Homo sapiens: one gene and its partner. The protein of the gene in region 1 purifies or fractionates together with the protein of each later gene. This does not show direct contact. Each region holds a gene or a part of one and is shown on either strand. Other genes may lie near its edges.

Region 1 (7,296 bases):
TTGCAGTGAGCCAGGATCGTGCCATTGCACTCCAAGCGAGACTGCGTCTAAAAAAAAAAAAAATTCTTTACAGTCACAGTTTTGCCTATATGACATTCTGTTATAGAGGTATTTTGATCTATCATTGTTGAATATTTTATTGTTCTCCATTTTTATAAATAACGGGAATACCTTTTTTTGAAAGATTCTTGTTTATAATCTGATGATTTCATCTATTCAGCAAATATTTACTGAGTAATATATTTTCCTTAGGATAGACTTATAGAAATGGAATTACAGGGTGAAATTATATGAATATCTTCAAGTCTTTTGCTATAATGTTGCCAATTATTTTTCAGAGATTTTATCAGTTTATACTCCGACTCCCATTATGTGACAGTAACGGTTCTCAAAGCACTCTTATCAGTAATGAAAATTGTTTTGAATCAGTTAATTTAGTTGGAGGAGAAATTGCATCTTATTTTAGTTTTTTACTTCTTTGAAAATATTTTATATGTTTTTTTAACACATATCTGTTTATTAAGAATATTCTTTGCCCTATTCATAGCAATTATTTTGTCTTTTTATTTGGTGGGATTGTTTGCTAGTAGTCAAGTCTATTGTTCTCCTTTGTGATTGCTTGAGAAGAGCTTATGATTTCATGAGATAAGACAGGTGTTTCTAGGAAGGCTGTGTATAAGAGGGAAAGGAGAAAGTAAGGTTGACCAGGGCACTGTATCCAGCAAGTGGCCTAGGCCCAGGATGTTCACAATGGTTCACTGTAGCTTTGTAACATTTCTTGGCACAGCTCTGAGCTGCCTGCACTTTAACTAGGAAGCAGGAAGAGTAATTGTTTCCTTCATTATGTTTCTAAGTCAACTGCATCATGGGGATTGACCTAATGTTGAGCTCCAGCAGAGGTGGGTGGGACCTGGCAGGGCTGTTTCATAGCCTCTCTTCAAATCATGGATCCTCTCGAAGGTTCTGCCTGATGGGGCCATGTGCCAAGGCTCGTCTGCTTGCCTCTTGCAGTGACAGTTCTTTTTGGTCTGTAATGTAAATATCATGGCCCTGAAATCCCCTAGCTGTCCGTGCTTTGTCACTTCTTCAAAGGGAACTGACTTGTTTTCCAATGGAGGAGGAACATTTGCTGCCTACACTGGTTTGAAGCATTAAAAGGGGAGAAAAAGAGCTAAGAGTAAGTGTTGCTTCATTCTTTGTATTCACATGGAAATTTTTAAATCTTCATCAAAGGATCAGGAGAAAAATCACATTGAAATTCAATACAAGAGCTCACAGCTTAACACAGAATTTTTCAAAATTGATTCTTTAAAAATTGCAGAAACTATGAACTGTGTAGCTCCAGGGTTCATAGTTTTCCTTACCCTCCTCAGCCTCTGCCTCTGTCTTGCCTTCCTTTCTACCTACACTCCATCTGTTTGGTTTTGTGTCAGCATGCAGAGCTTTGAATGGGGGCTGGGAGAGGTGGTGGGAAGTATGCAGCAAGTCAGGTTTATAGAGCTGCCCATACTTTCACCCCTCTCTCAGGCCTCATTATCTCATCTCTCAGAATATTGTAACTGGTCTCCCTTTCTTCAGTTTCCTTATTCCAGGCTTTCTTCCACATTGCTACCAGAATTACCTTAATAAGAGATAAAACTGTTCATGTCACTTTCTTGCTTAAAAACTACCACTGGCAGCCAGGTGCGGTGGCTCACACCTGTAATCCCGGCACTTTGGGAGGCTGAGGTGGGAGGACTGCTTGAGTCCAGGAGTTCAAGACCAGCCTGGGCAACATAGTGAGACTTTGCCTCTACAAATAATAAAAAAATTAGCTGGGCATGGTGGCACATGCCTGTGGTCCCAGCTACTTGGGAGGCCAAGGCAGGAGGATCACTTGAGCCCAGGTAGTCAAGACTGCAGTGAGTTGTGATTGCACCACTGCACTCCAGCCTGGGCAGCAGAGCAAGACCCCGTCTAACAAGGAAAAATTACCACTGGCTTCTCAGTCCAGACTTTCTAGACTGCTACTGTAACTCCTCAGTGGGTTCATCTTACCTGCTGCCGAGATAGAGACGATTTATCAAGATGGGAGAATTGCAATAAAGAGTTTAATACACATAGAGGCAGCTAAACGGGAAACCAGAATTTTATTATTACTCAAATCAGCCTCCCCCAGAATTCTGAGGCTAGGGTTTTTCAAGGATGGTTTGGTGGGCAGGGGTCTAGGGAATGAGTGCTGCTGATTGGTTGGGGATGCAATCATAGGGGTGTGGAAACCAGTCCTCTGCTGAGCCCAGTTTTGGATGGGGGCCACAGAGGGGTCACTGGTCCCAGTGGAGTCATCCAGTCATCAGAAATGCAAAAGTCAGAAAAGACATCTTAAAAAGCCAATCTTAGGTTCAACAATAGTGATGTTACTTACAGGAGTAACTGGGGAAGTTGCAAATCTTGTGACCTTTGGAAAAATGATTGGTAATCATGAGAATTCAGGCCCCTCTTGTAATCCTAAATTTGTACGCTTTTATTAGTTTTATAAAGGCAGTTTCATTTTGAGAAGGGCTATTATCATTTAAACTATAAACTGTAATAAATTTCTGGCTAGGCATGGTGGCTCACACCTGTAATCCTAGCATGTTGAGAGGCCGGAGCAAGCGGATCACCTGAGGTCAGGAGTTCAAGACTCCTGACCTCAGGATGGTCAACATGACGAGACACCATCTCTACTCAAAATACAAAAATTAGCCAGGCATGGTGGCCGGCGCCTGTAATCCCAGCTACTTGGGTGGCTGAGGCAGGAGAATCACTTGAACTGGGAGGTGGAGGTTGCGATAAGCCAAGATCGCACCGCTACACTCCAGCCTGGGCCACAGAGCGAGACTCCATCTCAAAAAAAAAAAAAAAAAAAGAAAAAGAAAAAAAAGTCAGGCACAGTGGCTCATGCCTGTAATCCCAGCACTTTAAGAGGCTGCAGCAGGCGGATCACTTGAGGCCAGGAGTTTGAGACCAGCTTGGCCAACATGGCAAAACCCCATCCCTACCAAAAAATACAAAAACAGCCAGGCATTGTGGCATGTGCCTGTAGTCCCAGCTACTTGGGAGGCTGGAGCACAAGAATCACTTGAACCCAGGAGGCAGAGGTTGCAGTGAGCTGAGATCATGCCACTGCACTCCAGCCTGGGCGATAGAGCAAGACTGTCTCAAAAAAAAAAAAAAAATTAGCCAGGCATGTGGCTCTCACACCTGTAATCCCAGCTTTCCAGCCACTCAGGAGGCTGAGGTGGGAGAATCACTTGAACCTGGGAGGCAAAGGTTGCAGTGAGCTGAGATCGCACCACTGTACTCCAGCCTGGGCAACAGACAGAGTGAGACCCTGTCTCAGAAAAAAAAAAAAAAAAGTTTTCTCCCAAAGTTAGCTCAGCCTATGTCCAGGAATGAGCAAGAGCAATTTGGAGGTTAACAGCAAGATGGAGTTGATTAGGTCAGATTTCTTTCACTGTCATAATTTTGTCACTGTTATTTTTGCAAAGGTGGTTTCACCACAAAAAGCTTTCGTGATCTGGCCCCCTTGCCTACCTGATTAGCTTAACCTTCTGCTTTTCCTCTTAAACTCATACAGGCTACTGTCCATTGGATTATGAATTCCTTGAAGTCAGAAATGATGTATTTCCAAGGCCTAGCACAGTAACTCGCATATGCTTGGTAAATGCTACATAAATTAATTAGCAATATAAAATTCTAATAAGGTCACAGTGTGAGAGAACACTGAAAAACATGTGCTAGTTTCTCATCTCTCTGCTTTCCATTGCTAAGTATAAATAAAAACATAAATAAAAAACACACACTGAACTAAAGATCAGGTCCCTTCTTCCCCTAGTACAGATTCCTGATCACTTAGACCCAACATCCTGTCTCAGTACCCACCAGGAAGCACTCTGCTTCTCCGAACTGCCAAGTCAATGCCACATTTGATCTCTGACAGTCCCAAGGTGCCATGACAGGAAAGGATTTGGCTTTTCCTTGTATGCACAGAGCTTTTGATCCGGGTATGTTCCAGACAGTCAGGTTTCTCATATTTGGCCATTCTTTCTTTCTAGGTCAATAACTTCTATCCGGAGTGAACTGATTCCATATTTAGTGAGAAAACAGTTTTCCTCAGCTTCCTCACAACAGGGACAAGAAGAAAAAGAGGAGGATCTAAAGAAAAAGGAGCTGAAGTCCTTAGGTCAGTTCTTGGGTTGGTTCAGTAAGAGGGGCAAGGGTAGCAGCACCTTTGGAAAGAGTGGTTGGGCAGCTTAGCCCAGCCCAAGATGCCTGACTCAAGGCAGCAGACTATTTCTAGCCTACGAGGCAAGACAGGCTTGCCAACCCACTGAGCTCTGGGTAAGCTTGCTCAGGCAGATTCTGCCACTGTGCTCTCGGCAACAGGCTAATCATGCCTCCAGCCCCATTCTCTGATTCATAGCTCTGGTTTGGCTGTGTTCCTCACTAGACCATTTTGCCTTTAAACTCCACCTGCCACTTCTTAGTTCCCCTGTTCTCTAGGCTCTAGGCAGCCCCGTTCCTGATTAAACTCAACCTCTTTTATCAAGGGAAGGAAAGTGAAGGAATGTACAATTGCAGTCCAACCACAGGCCAACCCAGGTGTCTCCGTGCCAGGATCTGAAGATCGGATCTGTCTTGTTTGCTGTCATATCCCTAATCCCCGGCCCAGTCGTGGACTCATAGTAGATATTCTGAAAAAGTATTTATCAAATGAATACACTGACAGTACAGCATGATGATTAGGACTGTAGAACTGGGCATCAGACAGTTCTGGATTTGAAATCTGACTGCCTCTTACTAGCATTGTGTCTTTTTTTTTTTTTATTTTTTTGAGACGGAGTCTCCCTCTGTCGCCCAGGCTGGAGGGCAGTGGCGCAATCTCGGCTCACTGCAAGCTCCGCCTCCCGGGTTCACGCCATTCTCCTGCCTCAGCCTCCCCAGCAGCTAGGACTACAGGCACACGCCACCACGCCCGGCTAATTTTTGTATTTTTAGTAGAGACGGGGTTTCTCTGTGTTAGCCAGGATGGTATCGATCTCCTGACCTCATGATCCACCCGCCTCGGCCTCCCAAAGTGCTGGGATTACAGGCATGAGCCACCGTGCCCGGCCAGCATTGTGTCTTGAGGCAGGTTACTCAGTCCTCTGAGCCCCAGTTTTTTTATGAGAAAGTAAAAGATCTCAAAGGATCGTTGTAAGAGCTGAAAAACTAGAGCCCTGGTACTCTGGGCTCCAAGTTCTGTACTTTCTGTCATAGCACAGCTACCAGATATGGTAATAGAGACTAGCAGCACAAAGTCAACCTGGCTGGCCACTAAAGCCTGGATGCTGGCTTGTGTTATTTCATGATTTACAAGGGTCATCTGTTTTATTTTCCCTAGTGGTCTTGATTACCGGTCACATGCTTTTAGGACCTCGTATTAAGCATTTTTATATCATATGATATTTTAGGGAAGTACATTTCCTCTTTTAGTTTGACTTTCTCTTACAGATTTTAGTGGGATTTCCTCAGGGTTCATGTTTTGTGGGTGAGTTTCAAAGGAAGAAGTGTGAGCTGTAATCTCTTTTAAAACTTAGAGCCAAGCATGGTGGTGCACACCTGTAGTCCCAGCTGCTCAGGAAGCTGAGGTGGGAGGATCCCTTGAGTCTGGGAGTTTGAGACCAGCCTAGGCAACATAGCAAGACCTCGTCTCTTAAATAAACAAAAAAACAACTTGACTGAGTCTGTATCTGTTCTGTTATCTCTCTCTCATTTATTTCCTTGGTTGGGTGTTTGTTCTGAAGATATCTACAGTTTTATAAAAGAAGCCAATACACTGAACCTGGCTCCCTATGATGCCTGCTGGAATGCCTGTCGAGGAGACAGGTGGGAAGACTTGTCCAGATCACAGGTGCGCTGCTATGTCCACATCATGAAAGAGGGGCTCTGCTCTCGAGTGAGCACACTGGGACTCTACATGGAAGCAAACAGACAGGTGAGAGCATGAGTTAGAAAATCATGGGGCTCTTGTCCTAGAAACAGACTGAGCCACTTGTCTGTTTCTTCATTAGGTACATAGTAACTTGTTAAGAATCCCTGTCATTCCCAAGGTTGAGCAAGACCTGGCACGTCAAGGGAGACTACTAGGGTACTCAGGTGCAGCAAAAAGGGAAGCAGGGGGCCTGGTCCATAGTCAGGGCCTCTATGGCTCCAGGGAAAGGCTAAGATCTTCAGGAAGGCTAACTTCTGGCCTTTGGGTCAGCAGGTTCCTCCTGTTCTGTTCAGCATGGGGATATCTGCAGTACTTACTTCATAATAAGCAGGTAAATACTCTGTAATCATTACTCTGATGAAGTAAACATAGGCATACAGAGGAGGCTTCCCTGAGAAGGTGAAGGAGCAGAGTATAGAGTGGCCAGATGGCAAAGCCTCAGGAAAGGAATGACTTTGAGAGAGAATTGTCTGCAAACAGCATTAATGAGGAGTCTCTTGCTAGCCCCTCCTTTTAACCTTGAAGTTTGTGAGATATGGGGAACAAATAGCTTCCACTGAAGGAGAAGCAGTGTCCTCAAAGATAAGCCAGGCCTTAATGAAGGCAGGGGGTGGAGAGGGGGACAGTAAAGAGGCTGAAGGTATAAAGGAACTCTGTATTGTATAGTAGGCCCAGGAGGAAGGTTTTGGGAGGGAGGAATAATAAGACTAGGAAAAGGAAATGCAGAGCAGTAAAGGGTTTAGATGAGAATAAGAAAAGAGTCCGGGCACGGTGTCTTACGCCTATAATCCTAGCAATTTGGGAGGCCGAGGCAGGTGGATCGCTTGAGTCCAGGAGTTCGAGACCAGCCTGGGCAACATGGCAAAATCCTGTCTCTACAAAAATACTACAAAAATTAGCCAGGTATGGTGGCATGTGGCTGTAGTCCCAGTTACTTGGAAGGCTGAGGTGGGAGGATCACCTGAGCCTGGAATGCAGAGGTTGCAGTGAGCTGAGATTGCACCACCGCACTCCAGCCTAAGCCTAAGCAACAGAGTGAGACTCTGTATTAAAAAAAAAAAAAGAGGATAGGAAAAGATAAATAATTGAGGGAACTACATTGGGGTGGCATTCAAGGATAACAGAGGTGAGATAATGAAAAGATTAGTTATTGACATTGCTCCTGGTAGAACCCTGTGAAAATATAATTGCAGGTGTAGACCAGGGTGGCAGTGGAGCGCAGAATAATATAAAAGAAATTGTTGAAAATTGGGATTGAGGCCGGGCACAGTGGCTCACGCCTGTAATCCCAGCACTTTGGG
Region 2 (4,077 bases), on another chromosome or scaffold:
CTCCTAGCCTGAAGCAATCTTTCCACTTCCCAAAGTGCTAGGATTACAGGCATGAGCCACTGTGGCCGGCCTGTCATTTGTTTTCATTTTAATTGAGCACATTTGACCTCAATTTATTACAATCTCTCTCTCCATTATTTAATTTAGAAAAGCTTCATGAAAGCTTTTTTTAGTTAAAATATATGTAACATAAGGCCGGGCGTAGTAGCTCACGCCTATAATCCCAGCACTTTGGGAGGCTGAGGCAGGTAGATCATCTGAGGTCAGGAGTTCGAGACCAGCCTGGCCAACATGGTGAAACCCCATATCTACTAAAAATACAAAAAATTAGCTGGGCATGGTGGCGGGTGCCTGTAATCCCAGCTACTTGGCAGGCTGACGCAGGAGAATCGCTTGAACCTGGGAGGCGGAGGTCTGCAGGCAGAGTGTTGAGTCACATGGTAACTATATATTTAACTTTCAGAAACTAATGATTTTCCACAGCAGCTGCACTACTTTACATTCCCACTAGCAAAGCACAAAGGTTCCAATTTCTCTACATCCTTGCCAACACTTGTTTTTTTAAATTTTTTTATTTTTTGAGATGGAGTTTCACTCTTGCTGTCCAGGCTGGAGTGCAATGGCACAGTCTTGGCTCACTGCAACCTCCAGTGCCCGGGTTCAAGCGAGTCTCCTGCTTCAGCCTCCCTAGTAGCTGGGATTACAGGCACCCCCCATCCCACCATGCCCAGCTAATTTTTTGTATTTTTAGTAGAGATGGGGTTTCCCTATATTGGCCAGCTGGTCTCAAACTCCTGACCTCAGGTGATCCACCCACCTCGGCCTCCCAAAGTGCTGGGATTACAGGCGTGAGCCACCACATCCAGCCTCTAGTGGCTGTTTCTATATCCTTTGAGAAACATTTATTTTTTTGATTCCAAAGTCAGAATTAGATATATCTAATATATGTATTAGATATATGTATATCTATATTATATACATAACTTTCTATTGCTGTTTTTTAATTGTTCCTTTATTGTAATTGAGACGAGGTCTCACCGTGTTGCCTAGGCTGGTCCCAAACTCATGGGTTCAGGTGATCCACCCACCTCGGCCTCCCAAAATGCTGGAATACAGGCATGCACCACTGTGCCCGGCCCGCTTTTCTGTGGCTTCTACTTCAGATGCACTCTAGAGCTCATCCATTCCATTTTCTGCCTTCCCAGATTGGAACCAACCAGATGGCTGTGTGTGCCAAAGCACAGAACAAACCTTTCTATGTGGTTGCAGAAAGTTTCAAGTTTGTCCGGCTCTTTCCACTAAACCAGCAAGACGTCCCAGATAAGTTTAAGGCAAGAGTTTTACATATTTGAAGGGGTACTAAAGTCTAAACAGAAACCTTTGGAAATTGTAGTCCTAAGAATGTTCCAGTAATTTTTTCACTTCCTATTGCTACTTTCCCCAACACTTGGAATACAAAGATAAATTGGTGATTGGACTCACACATTTGTCCCTAGAACTTCAGTCTTTCAGTCTCTTTAAGTAGCACCATAGATGGGTGGAGAGGAAGCCCGAAGCTGGTGGGTAAGTCCCAGCTTTGGGCTTAACTGAGCTCAGCTCCCATCACCACAACTTACAAACTGTGCGAGTTGAGGCAAGTCCTTTCATTTCAACCTCTGAACCGGTTTTCTTGTCTGTAAAATGGCATAGCAGTATCTGACAGGGTCATGAGGATTCTAAGATAATCTTAGCACAGTCCCTGGCACGCTGCAAGCTCTCTATTGTGACTCTCGATCTTCCCTTGAGAGGTCTGGAGAAGTTAATCCGGCATGAGAATGAGGGGACATGGGATTTAAGTTTGTTACACTACAGCTCTCAGCCAGCACACTGCCATGATCTGGCTCATGGCCACAACTCTGCCCTCGTCTCTAGTGTCCTGCATAGCTTAGTTTCTCCCATTTTCAGAGAGCAGTCTCAGGAAGTAGCACACTGATCACTCACACCAAGGCCCTACCAGGTCAGAGCACTAAATATTCAGTGCCGACTAATGTGTACTTCTCTCCTCAGTATAAGGCAGACACTCTCAAGGTCGCGCAGACTGGACAAGACCTCAAAGAGGAGCATCCGTGGGTCGACTACACTGCCCCTTCCTTAATCACTCTGCTGTTTACAGACCTGGGCGTGCTGACACCCTCAGCAGTCAGCGATGAGCTCATCAAGCTCTATCTGTAACCTGTGAGCCCTTTCCTGCCAAGGTGCAGCTTACGTAGTTGAGGCAGGGTGAGTAGCTGCTTGACACCCCAGTGAGTCAGGCCAAAACTGAGATGTGTTTAATGAAGATTTATGGAGTAAGGACTTAAAATCATACATCTTGGAGAACCTTTCTTACTCATTTCAGTCCCATCTAAAAATGTGTCAGCTATTCTAAATCCCAACTTAAATTGTTCTTACGGTTTCTAGAAACTTTCCTTTTCAGTTTCCAGAAATACAAGTTAGATAATTGGCTACTTAACTGATGAAAGATGAGCCCAAGTCCACCTGTCTTCATCCTCCCCTGCACTCCAGACTGATCTGCCTAAAGCACGCGAGATGCAGGCGAAAAGCAGCCACACCCCTCTGCCACAAATGACCAACAGCTGGTCAGGACGTTACACGCGGTGCCTTGTAAGAGGCAAGAAACACTTGCTGAATCTGCATCTGGCTTCCAGTGGTAAGCACATTCCTCAGCAGGATCAAGCCAAACAGTAAAAACTACCAAGAGAACACGAGGAAGGCAGAAACGATGTTTAGCAACAGTATTCTGCATGGTTCACTGCTTAAGAAAATGCCTTCTGGAATATTTGTAAACTGAAATTCTGTATGTGTAAGAGATGTTTAAATATGTTTGGGTCCTAAACAGCTTTTTAAAATTATACTTGGGAATAAATTCAGCATCTTTTCAAATAAACTCTATGAAAGACGCTGATGTGGTGTTGCATCAATACTGCAAGCTGACCAGGCCATCTAGGGGAAAACACTGTCCAGCTACATTTACACACTTAAGACCCAGGCAATCAGGACACCATTTATTCAACAGGAGGCATAAAAACTATAATTCTCTTTCCCGGAATATGACTTAATCCCTCTGTTTTTCAGCTATTCACCAATAAAACAATACTGTGACTATTAACACAGAAAAACCCCAGCACATTAGCCACCCCTGCAGGACATCAAAGGATAACTGAAGCCCAGGGCCAAGCACATTCAGGAGGTCAAATGCCTGAAGATACTGAGGAATGGTTTTGAAAATCAGAAGTCAAGAAGACTTCTGTATCTTTATGTTTAAAAATAACTATAAAATAGCCTCAGAAAAAAGAGCTTATATATATATATATATATATATATATATATATATATATATATATATAATATGTACATATGTCTATATGTGACCCATCATGATAAATACTGACATCTATTATTTACACTCAAATAATTTTACATTTTCTTCTGTTAGACTACTCCAAGACTGGAATTGTTTTGTTTTGTTGTTTTTAATGAGAGGGTCTCGCTGTGTTCCCAGGCTGGTCTTGAACTCCTGGGCTCAAGTGATCCTCCTGCCTCAGCCTCCCAAAGTGCTGGGATTATAGGCAGGAGCCACCGCACCCGGCCAAGACTGGAATGTTTTTAGTAAAATATTCTGAAGTGTGAAATCCTTCATTTCTCCCTCATCTGAAAGGACAGCTTTCAGAGACATCATTCTTTTCAGATGTCTCCTGAAGTTGTGATTTTCGTTAAAAGCAAACTGGAGCCATCCACCAAGTTAGGGAACAGCTATGTCCTTGTGGGTTCATCTGTGGCACTGGAATCAGCAGTCATCTTCCAAATCTGAGATCCCTAAATCCACTGTCTTGATTGTTCTTTTGCCAGTTGTCAACAAGCCCTTCTCAAATTCTTCTTCAGTTATTTTGCCTTTCTTAAGTTTTTTCAAGAGTCTTGTGTCATTAAGAAGTTCTTCCATGTCCTCATCTTCAATATCAGAACCCTAAGTGCAGAAGAAACCAATAAACTACTAAATTTTTCAGCAATAGTGTTGTAGTGAAACCAGCAGTTTTAACT

Evidence for each region.
Region 2: the proteins of EIF2B3 (region 1) and EIF2B1 purify together in Homo sapiens (affinity purification with mass spectrometry; 8 studies listed by BioGRID and IntAct, with this or other methods). This does not show direct contact.

The regions. Positions count from the first base shown.
Region 1 is NC_000001.11:44,878,520-44,885,815, reverse strand, and holds part of EIF2B3 (translation initiation factor eIF2B subunit gamma), read left to right. Parts: intron 1-4,076; coding exon 4,077-4,204; intron 4,205-5,807; coding exon 5,808-5,998; intron 5,999-7,296. UniProt on the Homo sapiens protein: Acts as a component of the translation initiation factor 2B (eIF2B) complex, which catalyzes the exchange of GDP for GTP on the eukaryotic initiation factor 2 (eIF2) complex gamma subunit.
Region 2 is NC_000012.12:123,619,890-123,623,966, reverse strand, and holds the end of EIF2B1 (translation initiation factor eIF2B subunit alpha), read left to right. Parts: intron 1-1,205; coding exon 1,206-1,331; intron 1,332-2,046; coding exon 2,047-2,211; 3' UTR 2,212-3,561; downstream 3,562-4,077. Other genes in the region: ATP-dependent RNA helicase DDX55, read right to left, coding at 3,827-4,003.